Linked DNA regions of Homo sapiens. The protein of the gene in region 1 purifies or fractionates together with the protein of each later gene. This does not show direct contact. Each region holds a gene or a part of one and is shown in the gene's direction. Other genes may lie near its edges.

The links. Proteins that work in one complex are often made in the same cells at the same time.
Region 2: the proteins of DHDH (region 1) and ATRN purify together in Homo sapiens (co-immunoprecipitation; 2 studies listed by BioGRID and IntAct, with this or other methods). This does not show direct contact.

The regions. Positions count from the first base shown.
Region 1 is NC_000019.10:48,936,083-48,944,362, forward strand, and holds part of DHDH (trans-1,2-dihydrobenzene-1,2-diol dehydrogenase), read left to right. Parts: coding exon 1-113; intron 114-3,366; coding exon 3,367-3,619; intron 3,620-6,357; coding exon 6,358-6,482; intron 6,483-8,274; coding exon 8,275-8,280.
Region 2 is NC_000020.11:3,473,378-3,481,017, forward strand, and holds part of ATRN (attractin isoform 1 preproprotein), read left to right. Parts: intron 1-7,640. UniProt on the Homo sapiens protein: Involved in the initial immune cell clustering during inflammatory response and may regulate chemotactic activity of chemokines. May play a role in melanocortin signaling pathways that regulate energy homeostasis and hair color.

The DNA.
Region 1 (8,280 bases):
TGTGCTTGGCGGCGGGCAAGGCCGTTCTGTGCGAGAAGCCCACGGGCGTGAACGCGGCGGAAGTTCGCGAGATGGTCGCGGAGGCCCGATCCCGAGCCCTCTTCCTTATGGAGGTGAGGGCAGAGGAGCCCTTCCAATATCCAGCGTAAAAGTGCTTGCCATTAAATATGGTTGCCAGTGCGCGGACGGGGTCAGTGCATTTGCCAGGATGTATCTGAATCTCCTTGGCAGCATCTATTACCGTGAAAGCCATTGCTTTTGGCCCTTAGCAAACACGGCAAGGCTTACTGAAATTGCTTGGATCTTTTGTCAGTCTTTAAGAAAAAGATGCCGGCCGGGCGCGGTGGCTCATGCCTGTAATCCCAGCACTTTGGGAGGCCGAGGCGGGCGGAGCACGGGGTCAGGAGATCGAGACCGTCCTGGCTAACATGGTGAAACCCCATCTCTTCTAAAAATACAAAAAATTAGCTGGGCGTGGTGGCGGGCGCCTGTAGTCCCAGCTACTTGGGAGGCTGAGGCAGGAGAATGGCGTGAACCCGGGAGGCGGAGCTTGCAGTCAGCCAAGATTGCGCCACTGCACTCCAGCCTGGGCAACACAGTGAGACTCCGTCTCAAACAAGAAAAAAAACAAACAAAAAAAAAAACAAGAAAAAGATGCCAAGAGTGAAAGTGGCATAGAATGGCAATGGCTTAGTTTGGGTGGGGTTCCAGGTAGAGGTTGAAAGGACCAAGGAACCCCCTACAAACCTGCAGTGCAGTGGCGCGATCTCGGCTCACTGCAACCTCCACCTCCCAGGTTAAAGCGATTCTCCTGCCTCAGCCTCCCAAGTAGCTGGGACTACAGGCGCCCGCCACCATGCCCAGCTAATTTTTGTATTTTTAGTAGAGACGGGGTTTCACCATGTTGGCCAGGCTGGTCTCAAACTCATGACTGCAAGTGATCCTCCTGCCGCGGCCTCCCAAAGTGCTGGGATTACAGGCGTGAGCCACCGCGCCCGGCCCCTACCTCAAGGTCTTTCATGTAATCCTATCCGCCAGGACCCCTTAGCCTTGTAAAGTCACACATTCACAGACTCCGGGGATCATCAGGTCGTGGATATCTTTGGGGGCACCAGTAGCCTACTGCCACAACACCCAGGCTCAGAGCCTGCGCAGAGCCTGCCCCCGGCTCCCCAGTGCCCTCAGGCCTGTGTTCACGCTCCTCTCGACTGCTCCGAGCCCGGGCGGACCTCGGCCACATCCGTCCTGCCCCGCCCTTCCCCCGTGAGCCCTGACACTCTTGCGTCAGCATTTTTAGAAATTGCTGGTGTGGGCCAGATGCGGTGGCTCACGCCTGTAATCCCAGCACTTTGGGAGGCCGAGGCGGGCAGATCACCTGAGGTCAGGAGTTCAAGACCAGCCTGGCCAACATGGCGAAACTCCGTCTCTACTAAAAAAGTACAAAAATTGGCCGGGCGCGGTGGCTCACGCCTGTAATCCCAGCACTTCGAGAGGCAGAGGCGGGCGGATCACGACGTCAGGAGATCGAGACCATCCTGTCTAACACAGTGAAACCCCGCCTCTACTAAAAATACAAAAAATTAGCCGGGCGTGGTGGCGGGCGCCTGTAGTCCCAGCTACTCGGGAGGCTGAGGCAGGAGAATGGCGTGAACCCGGGAGGCGGAGGTTGCAGTGAGCTAAGATCCCGACACTGCACTCCAGCCTGGACGACAAGAGCGAGACTGTCTTTAAAAAAAAAAAAAAAAAAAAAAGAAATTGCTGGAGTGCAGCCTTGGGACCTTTGCCCATTCTCCCGGCTCTCCCGTGACATTCTTTCTCTGGGCTCTTTGCCTAGTCCACGGAGCTTCCGTCTCCCCTGGAATGTCACCTCCTCAGGGTGTCACCGTCCCGGCTGTCCTGCGTGAAGGACCCTCCATTTTATTTGTGTCCTTGGTATTCCTTTGTTCATCCCTTGGTTGCCTGTTCTCTGTCTCTCTAGACTGGGTGCTCCAAGAGGTAGAACTCTGGTTTTTGTTGTCATTGTTGTTGTTTTTGAGACAGAGTCTTGCTCTGTCGCCAGGCTGGAGTGCAATGGCGTGATCTCGGCTCACTGCAACCTCCGCTGCCCGGCTTTAAGTGATTCTCCTGCCTCAGCCTCCCGAGTAGCTGAGATTACAGGCATGCACCACCACGCCCGGCTAATTTTTGTATTTGTAGTAGAGACGGGGTTTTGCTATGTTGTCCAGGCTGGTCTGGAACTTCTGACCTCAGGTGATCCGCCCGCCTTGGCCTCCCAAAGCGCTGGGGTTACAGGCATGAGCCACAGCGCCCAGCCCCCAGTTCCAGGAGTTTTTTTTTGTTGTTGTCATTTTGCATTTTTCTACATAGATGATGTCATCTATGAACAAAGAGTTTTATTTCTACCTTCTGTATCTATATGCCTCCTTTAAGGAGTTTCACTAGGAGATGCACACGTAACTCTTAAACCCACTGGCCTGCATGCTCTATACCTACATCTAATCTCTTCTTATAAGGACACCAGTCATATTGTCATATTGGATAAGGGCCCACCCTAATGACCTCATTTTTTTTTTTTTTTTTGAGTTGGAGTCTCGCTCTGTCGCCCAGGCTGGAGTGCAACGGTGCGATCTTCAGCTCACTGCAACCTCCACCTCCCGGGTTCAAGCAATTCTCCTGCCTCAGCTTCCCGAGTAGCTGGGACTACAGGCGTGCGCCATCACGCCCAGCTAAAATTTTTTGTATTTTTAATAGAGACGGGGTTTCACCGTGTTGGCCAGGCTGGTCTCTTGGCTAGGCTGGTCTCGAACTCCTGACCTCGTGATCTGCCCACTGTGGACTCGCAAAGTGCTGGGATTACAGGCGTGAGCCACCGTGCCCAGCCTTGACCTTATTTTAACATAATTATCTCTCTGAAAACCCTGTGGCCACAACAGTTGCTTTCAGAGGTACTAGGGAGTTAAGGCTTCAACACGTGAATTGTGTTTGGCAGGGCAGAAGCGAGAGGGAGAGAGACACAATTCATCCCATAACATGGGGAGACTGGGGCAATGGTCCAGATGAAAAAGAACAAAAGTCAATAGGGCACGGTGGCTCATGCCTGTAATCTCAGCACTTTGGGAGGCTGAGGTGGGAGGACTGCTTGAGCCCAGGAGTTCGAGACCAGCCTGGGCGACATAGTGAGACCCTATCTCTATTCAAAAAAAAAAGAAAAAGAAGAAAAGTCAAGAGGGTCAGGAGCAAGAGGGATACAACCTGGGGACTGATGGGCTGTGTTTGGAGACTGGGTTGCAGTGGGTATCCCCCTATGATTGGGACCCCAGAAGGGATTAGAACTGGTTGGTTAACTCCTTTCCTTGTGGTCTGCAGGCCATCTGGACCCGCTTCTTTCCTGCCTCCGAGGCTCTGAGGTCTGTTTTGGCCCAGGGAACTCTAGGAGACCTCCGGGTGGCTCGGGCAGAATTTGGGAAGAATCTCATCCACGTTCCCCGGGCCGTAGACCGGGCCCAGGCTGGGGGGGCCCTGCTGGACATCGGCATCTACTGTGTCCAGTTCACCTCCATGGTCTTTGGAGGGCAGAAGCCAGAGAAGATTTCTGTCGTGGGAAGGCGTCATGAAACAGGTACCATCTATCCTGGAATATTTCATGGTGATGGGAATGATTCTGTCTCTCTGGGAGCACTGAACTGAGGACAAGTCTCCAAGTCAATGAGAATTAGATCAGACACCTAGAGGAACAACTTTCCATGAAGCCAGAGAGGATCAGAGTCAAGACTGCAGGTGGGCACTCTCCTGGGACTTTGCTGTGTGATCTTAGCCAGCAGACTTAACATCTCTGAATCTTAATTACTTTACTGGTAAAGTGTCACTAATAGGGTTGTCATGGGAGTTAATGAAGTAACTGCTGAGGCAAATGGCAGTTAATAAATATAAAATTATTATTTTTTGAAGTTGTCTCAGTGAATCTTTGCTACAAAAAAGACTACCCCACTTGGCCAGGCGTGGTGGCTCACGCCTGTAATTCCAGCACTTTGGGAGGCCGAGGTGGCCAGATCACCTGAGGTCAGGAGTTGGAGACCACCCTGGCCAATATGATGAAACCCCATCTCTACTAAAAATACAAAAATTAGCTAGGCATTGCGGCAGGCACCTGTAATCCCAGCTATCTGGGAGGCTGAGGCAGGAGAATCACTTGAACCCAGGGGGCGGAGGTTGCAGTGAGCTGAGATGGCGTCACTGTACTCTAGCCTGGGCGACAGAGTGAGACTCCATCTCAAAAAAAAAAAAAGCTGCCCCACTTTGCAGAAGAGGCCCTTGCCTTGGCTTCCACTCAGCTGGAAAGTATCCAAGAGTGCCTGAGCCACCCAGATGTGATGCCCTTCATCTTTGACCTTTAACCCCAAGGAGCAAGAGGCAGTTCATGCTTCATTAAAGTTACATTCAGCCGCAAAAAAAAAAAAACATAACACTACCCCAAAACTTAGTGACTTCAGGCTGGGCATGGTGGCTCACGCCTGTAATCCCAGCACTTTGGGAGGCTGAGGTGCGCGGATCACTTGAGGCCAGGAGTTCAAGACCACCCTGGCCAACATGGTAAAACCCTGTCTCTACGAAAAGTGCAAAAAAAATTAGTTGGGCGTGGTGGTGTGCACCTATAGTCCGGCTACTCTGGAAGGTGAGGTGGGAGGATCAATTGAGCCTGGGAGGCAGAGGTGGCAGTGAACTGAGATGGTGCCACTGCATTCCAGCCTGGGGAACAGAGCCAGACCCTGTCTCCTTTTTGTGGAGAACAGAGTCTCGCTATATTGCCCAGGCAGGTCTCGAACTCCTGGGCTCAAGCTATCCTCCCGCCTCTGCCTCCCCGAGAGCTGGGATTACAGGTGTGGCCACCGCCCCCGGCAAGCCAGACCCTGTCTCAAAAAAAAAAAAAAACTTAGTGACTTCAAATAGCAATCATTTATTAGCTTGTGATTCTGTGCATTGGCAAATTGGGGCTGGGCTCTGCTTGATGGTTCTTCTGCTGGTCTTATTCCTGCAGCTGCAGTCAGTTGGCTGTTCAGCTGGGACTGGACAGTCTGGTAGGCTTCATTTATATCTTACAGGTGGCAGGCAACTGTCTGGGAAGCCTTGATTCTCCTCCACCTGGCCTCTCCAGCTGGCTAGATACCATTCATATCGTGGTGTGAGAATTCCTGATGTGCAAGCACTTTTCAGGCCTCTAATTACACCATATTTGCTACTGGCCCATTGGCCAAAGCAAGTTACATGGCCAGCTCAGTTTTCAGAGATGGGCAAATAGACTGTAATTTTTGTTTTTTTTTAGATAGTATCTCACTTTGCCACCCAGGGTAGAATATAGTGGTGTGATCTTGGCACACTGCAGCGTCAACCTCCTAAATTCAAGCGATTCTCCTCCGTAAGACCCCCAAGTAGCTGGGCATACAGATGTGGGCCACCACGCCTGGCTATGTTTGTTTGTTTTTTGTAGAGATGGAGTTTCCCCATGTTGCCCAGGCTGGTCTCGACCTCCTGGGCTCAAGCAATACACACATTTGGCCTCCCAAAGTGCTGGGGATTACAGGCATGAACCACCGGCTTTTTTTTTTTTTTTTTGAGACGGGGTCTCACTCTGTCACTTAGGCTGAGTGCAGTGGCACAATCATTGCTCACTGCAACCTTGACCTCCCAGGCTCCAGGGATCCTCCACCTCAGCCTCCTGAGTAGCTAGGATCACAGGCACAAGCCACCACACCCAACTAAATTTTTTATTTTTTGTAGAGACAAGGTCTCACTATGTTGCCCAGGCTGGTCTTGAACTCCTGGACTCAAGGGATCCTCCTGCCTCCACCTCCCAAAGTGCTGAGATTATAGGTGTGAGTCACTGTGCACAGCCAAGACTGTACTTCGTGTGTGTGTGTGTGTGTGTGTGTGTGTGTGTGTGTGTGTGTGATGGAGTCTCGCTCTGTCGCCCAGGCTGGAGTGCAGTGGTGCCATCTCGGCTCACTTCAAGCTCCGCCTCCCACGTTCACGCCATTCTCCTGCCTCAGCCTCCCGAGTAGCTGGGACGACAGGACTACACCACGCCTGGCTAATTTTTTGTATCTTTAGTAGAGACAGGGTTTCACCGTGTTAGCCAGGATGGTCTTGATCTCATGACCCCACGATCTGCCCACCTCAGCCTCCCAAAGTGCTGGGATTACAGGCGTGAGCCACCGCGACCAGCCAGCACTTCATTCTTTTGCCTTGCCATGCAAGAAGTGAAGTCTCTTGCCCAAGGTTCCACAGGCAGGATTTGGGGCCTGTGCAGTCTCAGAGACTCTGCCCTGAGAGACCCTGCCCTGACCCAGGACTTCCCTCCAGGTGTGGATGACACTGTCACGGTGCTCCTGCAGTACCCAGGGGAGGTCCATGGCAGCTTCACCTGCAGCATCACCGTGCAGCTCTCCAACACGGCCTCCGTGAGCGGCACCAAGGGCATGGTACAGGTGAGGCATGGCGGGCCCAAGCGCTGGGGATCGTGCCCCTAAAATAGGAGGGGGACAAATGGCCTCTGGAGCTAGATGAGAGCTTAACCAGCCAATTTCACATCATTGCTAAAGAGTTCCTCCTTAACCAAGCCAAGAGGTGGGTTCTGGGCCTCTAGGCTCTCCTTACTTAGGATGAACCTATTGCTCTGTCAAATATTCTTGGGCCTGGCTGGCACGGTGGCTCACGTCTGTAATCCCAGCACTTTGGGAGGCCAAGGCAGGCAGATCACCTGAGGTCAGGAGTTCCAGACCAGCCTGGACAACATGGTGAAACGCCATCTCTACTAAAAATACAAAAATTAGCTGGGTGTGGTGGTGGGCGCCTGTAATCCCAGCTACTAGGGAGGCTGAGGCAGGAGAATTGCTTGAATCCGGAAGATGGAGGTTGCAGTGAGTTGAGATTACGCCATTACATTCCAGCCTGGGTGATAAGAGCAAAACTCCATCTCAAAAAAAAAAATATATATATATATATGTATCCTTGGGCCTGGCCGGCACGGTGGTCACACCTATAATCCCAGCACTTTGGAGGCTGAAGCTGGTGGATCACTTGAGCCCTGGAGGTCGAGGCTGCAGTGAGCTGTGATTGTGCCACTGGACTCCAGCCTGAGTGACAGAGTGAGATCCTGTCTCAAATATCTATCTTTAGTCCTGAGGAGAAGCCAGTTATTATCAACCATGCTTAGTGGGCAGTTGTGAATTTCGGAAGTGCATCCGGGGGAGGATCTGGGTGTTACCAAAGGTCAGCTTAACTGGTCTTCCTGGGGCCTTGTTGCTAGAAAAAAAAAAAACCCTATTTTATAGCCAGGCATGGTGACTTACACCTGTAATCCCAGCGTGATTGGGAGGCCAAGGCAGGCAGATCACTTGAGCTCAGGAATTCAAGACTGGCCTGGCCAACATGGTGAAACCCCGTCTCTACTAAAAAAAACATACAGGCTGGGCGCGGTGGCTCACACCTGTAATCCCAGCACTTTGGCAGCCCAGAGCGGGTGGATCACCTGAAGTCAGGTATTTGTGACCAGCCTGACCAACATGATGAAACCCTGTCTCTACTAAAAATGCAAAAATTAGCCAAGTGTGGTGGTGCATGCCTGTAATCCCAGCTACTCAGGAGGCTGAGGCAGGAGAATTGCCTGAACCCGAGAGGCGGAGGTTGCAGTGACCCGAGATCGAGCCATTGCACTCCAGGCTGGGCAACAAGAGCGAAACTCCGTCTCACAAAAAAAAAAAAAAAAATTAGTCAGGCATGGTAGTGGGCACCTGTAATCCCAGCTACTCGGGAGGCTGAGGCAGAAAAATCACTTGAACCCAGGAGGTGGAGGTTGCAGTGAACCGAGATTGATCCACTGCACTCCAGCCTGGGCGACAGAGCGAGACTCCATCTCAAAAAAAAGAAAGAAAGAAAGAAAGAAAATAAATAAGAAGAAAACATGGTTCACAGACACACAAAGATAAGCCCTCCTCTCTAGACCTTAAGAACACCTTGTTTCTAAGCTCCTAAGGTTAGGGAGAGGTTTGCTCCTGGGGAGACAGACAGGATTTTTGTGTCACATCAGCGTTGCTAAGGAACAAACTTCTAGCAACTAGAAATGAAGGAGGGTCCAAAGCTCCCCGGGGATGGACAGGGCAAGCTCTTAGCCACCAGGTTCAAGAGGGAGGCCCCTGTGCACCACCTGGCATGTTCCTGGAGGCAGCCTCAGCAGCACCGTTGGTGAAGGCAGCAGTGCCACTTCTTCTCTCCCTCCAGCTCCTC
Region 2 (7,640 bases), on another chromosome or scaffold:
CAGGTACAGAGGCTTGGGGTTGAAGCGGATGGAAGGCCAGGTGGCAGGAGCAGAGAGAGCAAAGGGGAGCTTGGCAAGACTGGAGAGAAAGGCGGGAAGCCAGGCCAAGTGGAGATCTGTGGGTTGGATTGAGAATTTTGACCTTTAGCCCAAGAGCTGTGAAATGGCGTAGTTCACGCCTATTTTCATGACATTATAGGCTTTTAGATTGGAGCCAGAATACAAATGGCCTTGAAGGTGAGGCCAGGGCATTTTCCATTTGAGAAGCTTCCAAGGTCAGGTGAATGGATGGTTGAGTCAGACGAGGATCCTTCAAGTTCTGAAAACCTGGGACACTGTGGTAGGCAGTGGGGACCAGCGGTGTGGGAAGGGGACTTCATAGCAAGATCAATCTGTAATGTTCAGAGTAGGTACACTCACTTTGGGCATGAGAGATAGGGGGCAGCTAGGTGGGATCTGTTGGCATGGGTCAGAGCAGTGGTAATGAGAGCTTGTAGAGGTGAAATGGACAAGTCTTCCGTGTAAACTGGTTTGCTCTTGGAAAGGTGGGGGATGGTGAGGGAAAGAAAACTAGATCCTGTCTTGGGTGGTTGAGAGGACAGTGATACCATTAACAGACACAGGGACACAGGAGCAGGTGTTAGACATTTAATTGCATGCATGCTGAGTTTGGGGTGCTCTCAGAGTACACACCTGGCAGATGTTAAGTTTGGAGTCATCGACCTATGAGGGAGATTGCCAGGGAGCTCTCTCTGAGAGTCCACATGGAAAGCCCAGAGGATTGGATAAGAGCTACTTGTTGCAGGGAACAGGCAGTCCTGACACTGGTTGTCTCAAATAGTGTCACAGGTGAGTGAAGGGACTCCCCTGCTTATTGTGGACATTCCCTTTGAGCTGATTCTAGGTGATGTCAGTGCTGTTTCCTGGGTAGACAATTATGACTTTGGTCCTGATGATACCATTATATTTTGTGGGCTTTGGGATTTTGCATTTTTAAAAATGAAAGTAGGAGGAACTTATGACTCTGGTCTTTTAAAAAAAACTCAGTAGGCCAGGCGTGGTGGCTAACACCTGTAATCCCAGCACTTTGGGAGGCCGAGGCGGTGTATCACGAGGTCAGGAGATCGAGACCATCCTGGCTAACTTGGTGAAACCCCGTCTCCACTAAAAATACAAAAAATTAGCCGGGCGTGGTGGCGGGCACCTGTAGTCCCAGCTACTCGGGAGGCTGAGGCAGGAGAATGGCGTGAACCCGGGAGGCAGAGCTTGCAGTGAGCCGAGATCGCACCACTGCACTCCAGCCTGGGTGACAGAGCGAGAGTCCATCTCAAAACAACAACAACAACAACAAAAACTCAATAAAATTTTAGTCGAGGCCAAGCGCGGTGACTCACGCCTGTAATCCCAGCACTTTGGGAGGCTGAGGCGGGCAGATCAAGAGGTTAGGAGTTGAGACCAGCCTGGCCAACATAGTGAATCCCCGTCTCTACTAAAAATACAAAAAATTACCTGGGCATGGTGGCAGGCGCCTGTGATCCCAGCTACTCGGGAGGCTGAGGCAGGAGAATTGCTTGAACCCGGGAAGCGGAGGTTGCAGAGAGCCGAGATTGCGCCATTGCACTCCAGACCAGGCGAGGGTGTGAGACTCCATCTCAAAAAAAAAAAAAAAAAAAAAAATTTAGTCCAAGTATTCTTTTGGGGGCAAGAGTGAAATGTTGGTTTTGATTGCAGTGGCTTGTATCTTGATTGAACTTACAAACCTCTTTGTTATTAAAAGACATTAAATGAATACCTTTCTGATTTAGAATGGCATCAAGTTGGAGTGTTTTTTGAGCTTTTTAGTCCTGTAAATCCTGTGTTATAATTGCCGTTATAGGGTTTTTTCATTAATTGAAGGGAACGTAGGCTAACGAGGAGTGGATTTCCCTAAGGTTATCACTGAGTGCAGACTATGTGCCACAGAGCATTTTCATGTACATTGTATTATTTAATCCTCAGGACAACTCTGAGGGTGTTATATAAAATTTAGATTATTGAATTATTGTAGTTAGTAACATTTTTTCTAAATAAAAGATGACATAGAAATGACTGATTTTAAAGGATAAGTTAAAGGATGTCAGTTTAATAAAAATACCTATAGAATCTTTGGTGTGTGATTTCTAAGGCAGTACCACTTTCGTTCATTCTTATGTGAATCTTCATAATTCAGTGATCATTTTTTTCTACTTGTAAGGTCACCAGTGTAATTTTTCTTCGAAGGATAAATATGCCCATAGGATAAATTAAGCTCATTTTTGAATTTAATATTCATTCAATTCTTTTAAGTTCCTGCTGTAGAAAATGTTTGGGAGAATTGAATAGAATAATCTGGTGAATTGGATTGAGCCTGATAATGTTAAGATGTACCTTCTGTAGAAAAAAAAAGAAAGGAACTAAGCACTTATCAGACATCTGTTTTGTGCCCAGCACATACAGTAATAATAGTGGGTGGGTGTAGTAGCTCACACCTGTAATCCCAACACTTTGGGAGGCAGAGGCAGAAGAATCACTTGAGCCCAGGAGTTTGAGACCAACCTGGGCAACAAAGTGAGAGCTCCTCACTACCAAAAAAAAGAAAGTTAGCTGGGTGTGTTGGCATGTGCCTGTGGTCCCAGCTACATGGGAGGCTGATGCAGGAGGATGGCTTGAGCCCAGGAGGTTGAGGCTGCAGTGAGCCATAATCATGCCACTGCATTCCATCCTGGGCAACAAAGCGAGACCCTTGTCACAAAAAAACAAAGCAAAACAAAAAATATGTATATAGTGCCAACTGCCTATTAGAAATAACTCCCTTTTAGTCCTTAGAGTGAAGTTATTCCCATTTCACAGATGAGTAAACTTGGATGTACTGAATAACTTGTCCAAGGTCACAGAAGTTGTGCAAAATTGAGATTTGAACTCAGGGTTGTCTAATGCCCAAACCTGTGTTCTTTTTATTATACCATTTGGCGTCTCATTTTTTTCTGAGTCCAGTCACTCTTTATGGACGTTCTTTGAAGGACTGACCTAATTCCAACAAACATTTTGAGAAATAAAGGAAGGAAAATAGATTTTTACAATAGGAAAGCTAACATTTTAAAAATCTTAAATTCACTTCAGTCTCTCTGGCTGACGATCTGAGGACATAAATACCTTTTTAACTAATGAAATGAAAATTCTTGCCTGGGCGCAGTGGCTCACGCCTGTAATCCCAGCACTTTGGGAGGCTGAGGCGGGCGGATCGCCTGAGGTCAGGAGTTCGAGACTAGCCTGACCAACATGGTGAAACCCCGTCTCCACTAAAAATTCAAAAAATTAGCCAGGCATGGTGGCGAGCGCCTGTAATCCCAGCTACTCAGGAGGCTGAGGCAGGAGAATCGCTCAAATCCAGGAGGCAGAGGTTGCAGTGAGCCGAGATTGTGCCATTGCACTCCAGCCTGGACAACAAAAGCAAAACTCTGTCTCGAAAGAAAGAAAGAAAATTCTTGAAAACAAAATGTGAAGAAGTGAAAAGTTAAAACTTTTTTCTTATAGTAATTACTAAGTGATGTCAACCTCAAGCCCTAAATTTATGTTCACAAGTCCAGTTTAGGCTGATCTGCTTTCCCCAGTGCAATGTAAGTTCCATGAGGGCAGGGGCCTGGAGCATAGTTCACAAGTCCAGTTTAGGCTGATCTGCTTTCCCCAGTGCAATGTAAGTTCCATGAGGGCAGGGGCCTGGAGCATAGTTCACAAGTCCAGTTTAGGCTGATCTGCTTTCCCCAGTGCAATGTAAGTTCCATGAGGGCAGGGGCCCAGAGCATAGTTCACAAGTCCAGTTTAGGCTGATCTGTTTTCCCCAGTGCAATGTAAGTTCCATGAGGGCAGGGGCCTGGAGCATAGTTCACAAGTCCAGTTTAGGCTGATCTGTTTTCCCCAGTGCAATGTAAGTTCCATGAGGGCAGGGGCCTGGAGCATAGTTCACAAGTCCAGTTTAGGCTGATCTGCTTTCCCCAGTGCAATGTAAGTTCCATGAGGGCAGGGGCCTGGAGCATAGTTCACAAGTCCAGTTTAGGCTGATCTGTTTTCCCCAGTGCAATGTAAGTTCCATGAGGGCAGGGGCCTGGAGCATAGTTCACAAGTCCAGTTTAGGCTGATCTGCTTTCCCCAGTGCAATGTAAGTTCCATGAGGGCAGGGGCCTGGAGCATAGTTCACAAGTCCAGTTTAGGCTGATCTGCTTTCCCCAGTACAATGTAAGTTCCATGAGGGCAGGGGCCTGGAGCATAGTTCACAAGTCCAGTTTAGGCTGATCTGCTTTCCCCAGTGCAATGTAAGTTCCATGAGGGCAGGGGCCTGGAGCATAGTGAGCAGTAAATATCTGTTGAATGAAGGAATAAAATTCTGTAATTTACTTCTTATGACTTTTAAAAAAGTCGTCTTTACCCACATGACTGCCATATATGTCTTCTGTCCTTATATTGCTCCTGAACTTCTCTGTCATCCACTGTTTGGTGGGCATCTTTTATTGTCACCTCATACTGAATCATGTATAACACCAAACTTCTATCCTCATTGAAAAAAATAGTCTTTTTCTTTGTACTTCCTTATTTGTTTTAGCTAAATCCAAATTTAGCTAACCAAAGGTCAAAACTTAGCAGTAATCTTTGGCTCTTTCTACCTGTTTGTTTTTTTCTGCTCTCACACTGTATAAATTTGTTTCTTTCCATTTCTTCTGCTGCCATTCTAATGTACCTAACCCTTCACCTCATTGCTGACCTGCTTCTGTTGCACTTTTACTGTTTTCTTACACCTGCAGAGTCTGCTTCACACTTTGTCATATCAGTCTTCTAAAAAACATGTGTCTCTATGCACACGTATGTTTATTGCAGCACTATTCACAATAGCAAAGACTTGGAACCAACCACTGATGGGCTATCCAGCCCATCAGTGATAGACTGGATAAAGAAAATGTGGCACATATACACCGTGGAATACTGTGCAGCCATAAAAAATGGTGAGTTCATGTTCTTTGCAGGGACATGGATGAAGCTGGAAACCATCATTCTTAGCAAACTAACACAGGAACAGAAAACCAAACACCGCATGTTCTCACTCGTAAGTGGGAGCAGGGAGGGGAACATCACACACTGGGGCTTTCGGTGGGTAGGGGGATAGGGGAGGGATAGCATTAGGAGAAATAGCTAATGTAGAGTATGGGTTGATGGGTGCAGTAAACCACTGTGGCACGTGTATGTCTGTGTAACAAATCTGCACGTTCTGCACATATATCCCAGAACTTAAAGTGTAATAAAAAACAAAAACATGTGTCTCTTATTTTGCTTCTTTTATTACCTCTAAAATGATCCTCAGCAGAAGGATCCCATTCCTTTCACATCCCTTTTTTTCCTAACCAAATCTTTCTACTTCGTAGTTTTTCTGTGTTTGCTAAATTCAGCACCTCCCTCCTCACTGCTCCCCCATTCTTTCTTTTCATCTCTACTTACCAAGGCCCACCTTCAGTTCTCTATAATCTATAATTCATACCCTTTTTTTTTTTTTTTTTTTTGAGAGACAAGGTCTTATTCTGTCATCTAGGCTGGAGGGCAGTGCTCCTGGGCTCAAGTGATCCTGCCACCTCAGCCTCCCAAGTGGCTGGGATCACAGGCCAGTGTGCCCAGCCAATTTTTAAATTTTTTGTAGAGATGAGGTCTCACTATGTTGCCCAGGCCAATCTGGAACTCCTGTCCCCAAGAGATCATCTCGTCTTGACCTCCCAAAGTGCTGGGATTACAGGCATGAGCCACTGCACCTGACCCCTATTATCTTCTTTTGAAATGAGTCATCTGCTAATTCACTTCATAAATATCTGCTGAATATTGTGTGTTAGGTACTGTGCCCTTCCTTGAGGATATGAAGGTGTGTAAGAATCAGGCCTTGCTTTCCCCTAAGAGAAGTTATAACTATGAAGGGAAGACAGCTACGTACACAGCAATTAGAATTTCATAATAAAAATACAGGCAATATGTGGTGCTGGACTAAGATGTGATTGACTTAACTCTTTTGGGGGTTCTGGTGGAAGACATCACAGAAGAGAGGACATTTGGGCAGGTCTGAGAGGTTTAGTGTGAGTAGACCATCTGGGGGAGAAAGACATTCCAGAAGGAATGAAGAGTTGATGTGCAAAGGCAAAGAATTATGGATTATCATACTTAGTGTATTAATTTCCAAGGGCTGTTACAGTGAAGTGCCACAAACTCATGGCATAAAACAACAGAAATTTATTCTTTCATAGTTCTGGGGACTAGAAGCCTGCAATCAAGGTACTGGCAGGGCCACGATCTCTCTGAAGACTCTCAGGGAGGATCTGTTCCATGCCTTTCTCTTCGCTTCTGGAGTTGCCAGCAGTCCTTGGCATTTTGGCTTGTAGATGCATCACTTCAGCCTCTGCCTCCGTCCCTTCAATCTCATGTGATACTCTCCCTCCCTTTGTGTCTCTGTCTTTTCTCTTAAGGGTACCAGTCATAGTGGATGAACGAGTATGACATCATCGTAACTTTGTTGCATCTGCCAAGACCCTGTTTCCAAATAAGGTCACATTCACAGGGACCCAGGGTTAGGACTTTGACATATCTTTTTGGGGAACACAGTACAACCCACAGCACCTGGAGAACTGAATGTAGGTGCCTGTTGTTGGAACATAACTTGTGAGGGGTGTAATGGAAGGAAGGGGGTGAGGTTGTAAGGTTATAATGGCCTCTTTTTGTCCCTTCCCAACAATCTCCAGCTTCTGGGTTTATGCTTGACCTAGGATAAGCCCTCAGGGCATTCCAGTTTCTGGCCGTGCTGATTGTTTTGAAATGGGTTTATGATTGATTTTAATGGACTCAATCAGAGTGAATCTCAGGACTTTTGTCGGAGATCCCTTTCCTCTGTGGGCGTTTAGAAGGACATGTGTTGCCTTCTTTTCTGTGTGGCGAGGCCATAATGCCTAGAACTGTTAAGAGTTAGCGTTGCTGCTGTAAGGAATTCACCTCAGGTCAGAACAACTCCCAGAAGATGGAGGATGGCAGAGAAATGGAGCCGGAGACCTGATAACTTTCTGAATCTCTGGATCAAAACTTGCCTGAAGGTGTAGTTTTTGGTTTGTGAAGTACTGCAGTCCATGTTTTTCTTAAGCCGGTTAGAGTTGGATTTCCTTCCACTTACAGTAGAACAATTCCTAACATACAGAGGGAGGGAGGTAGAGCCAGCTGACTAGGGTTAGTCAGTTAGGGCTTCTGTAACAAATTACCATAGACTTTACCTCGATGAAAGGTTCCCAAGATGGGCAGATGCTTTTTATTTACCGCAGTATAGAGGACAGGTATGTACGCAGGAGAAAAAGGAGAGTGTGTGTTTATGATCAGAACAGTTTTGATCATATAAATGTGATTAAGTGATTTAATACATTTGTAGGTTATTTTTATCTTAAGAAATACAGAAGTGAGTACCTAGTGTTATGATTGAACAGAAATCTTACACTGGTTTTTCTTGTTAATACAATCATATTTCCAAAACTGAAATGAAACTATAGTTGTACTTTTTGAAATACTTGTGTCTGGAAATTGGCCATTAACTTACTATGATACTTGTTTCCCACTTA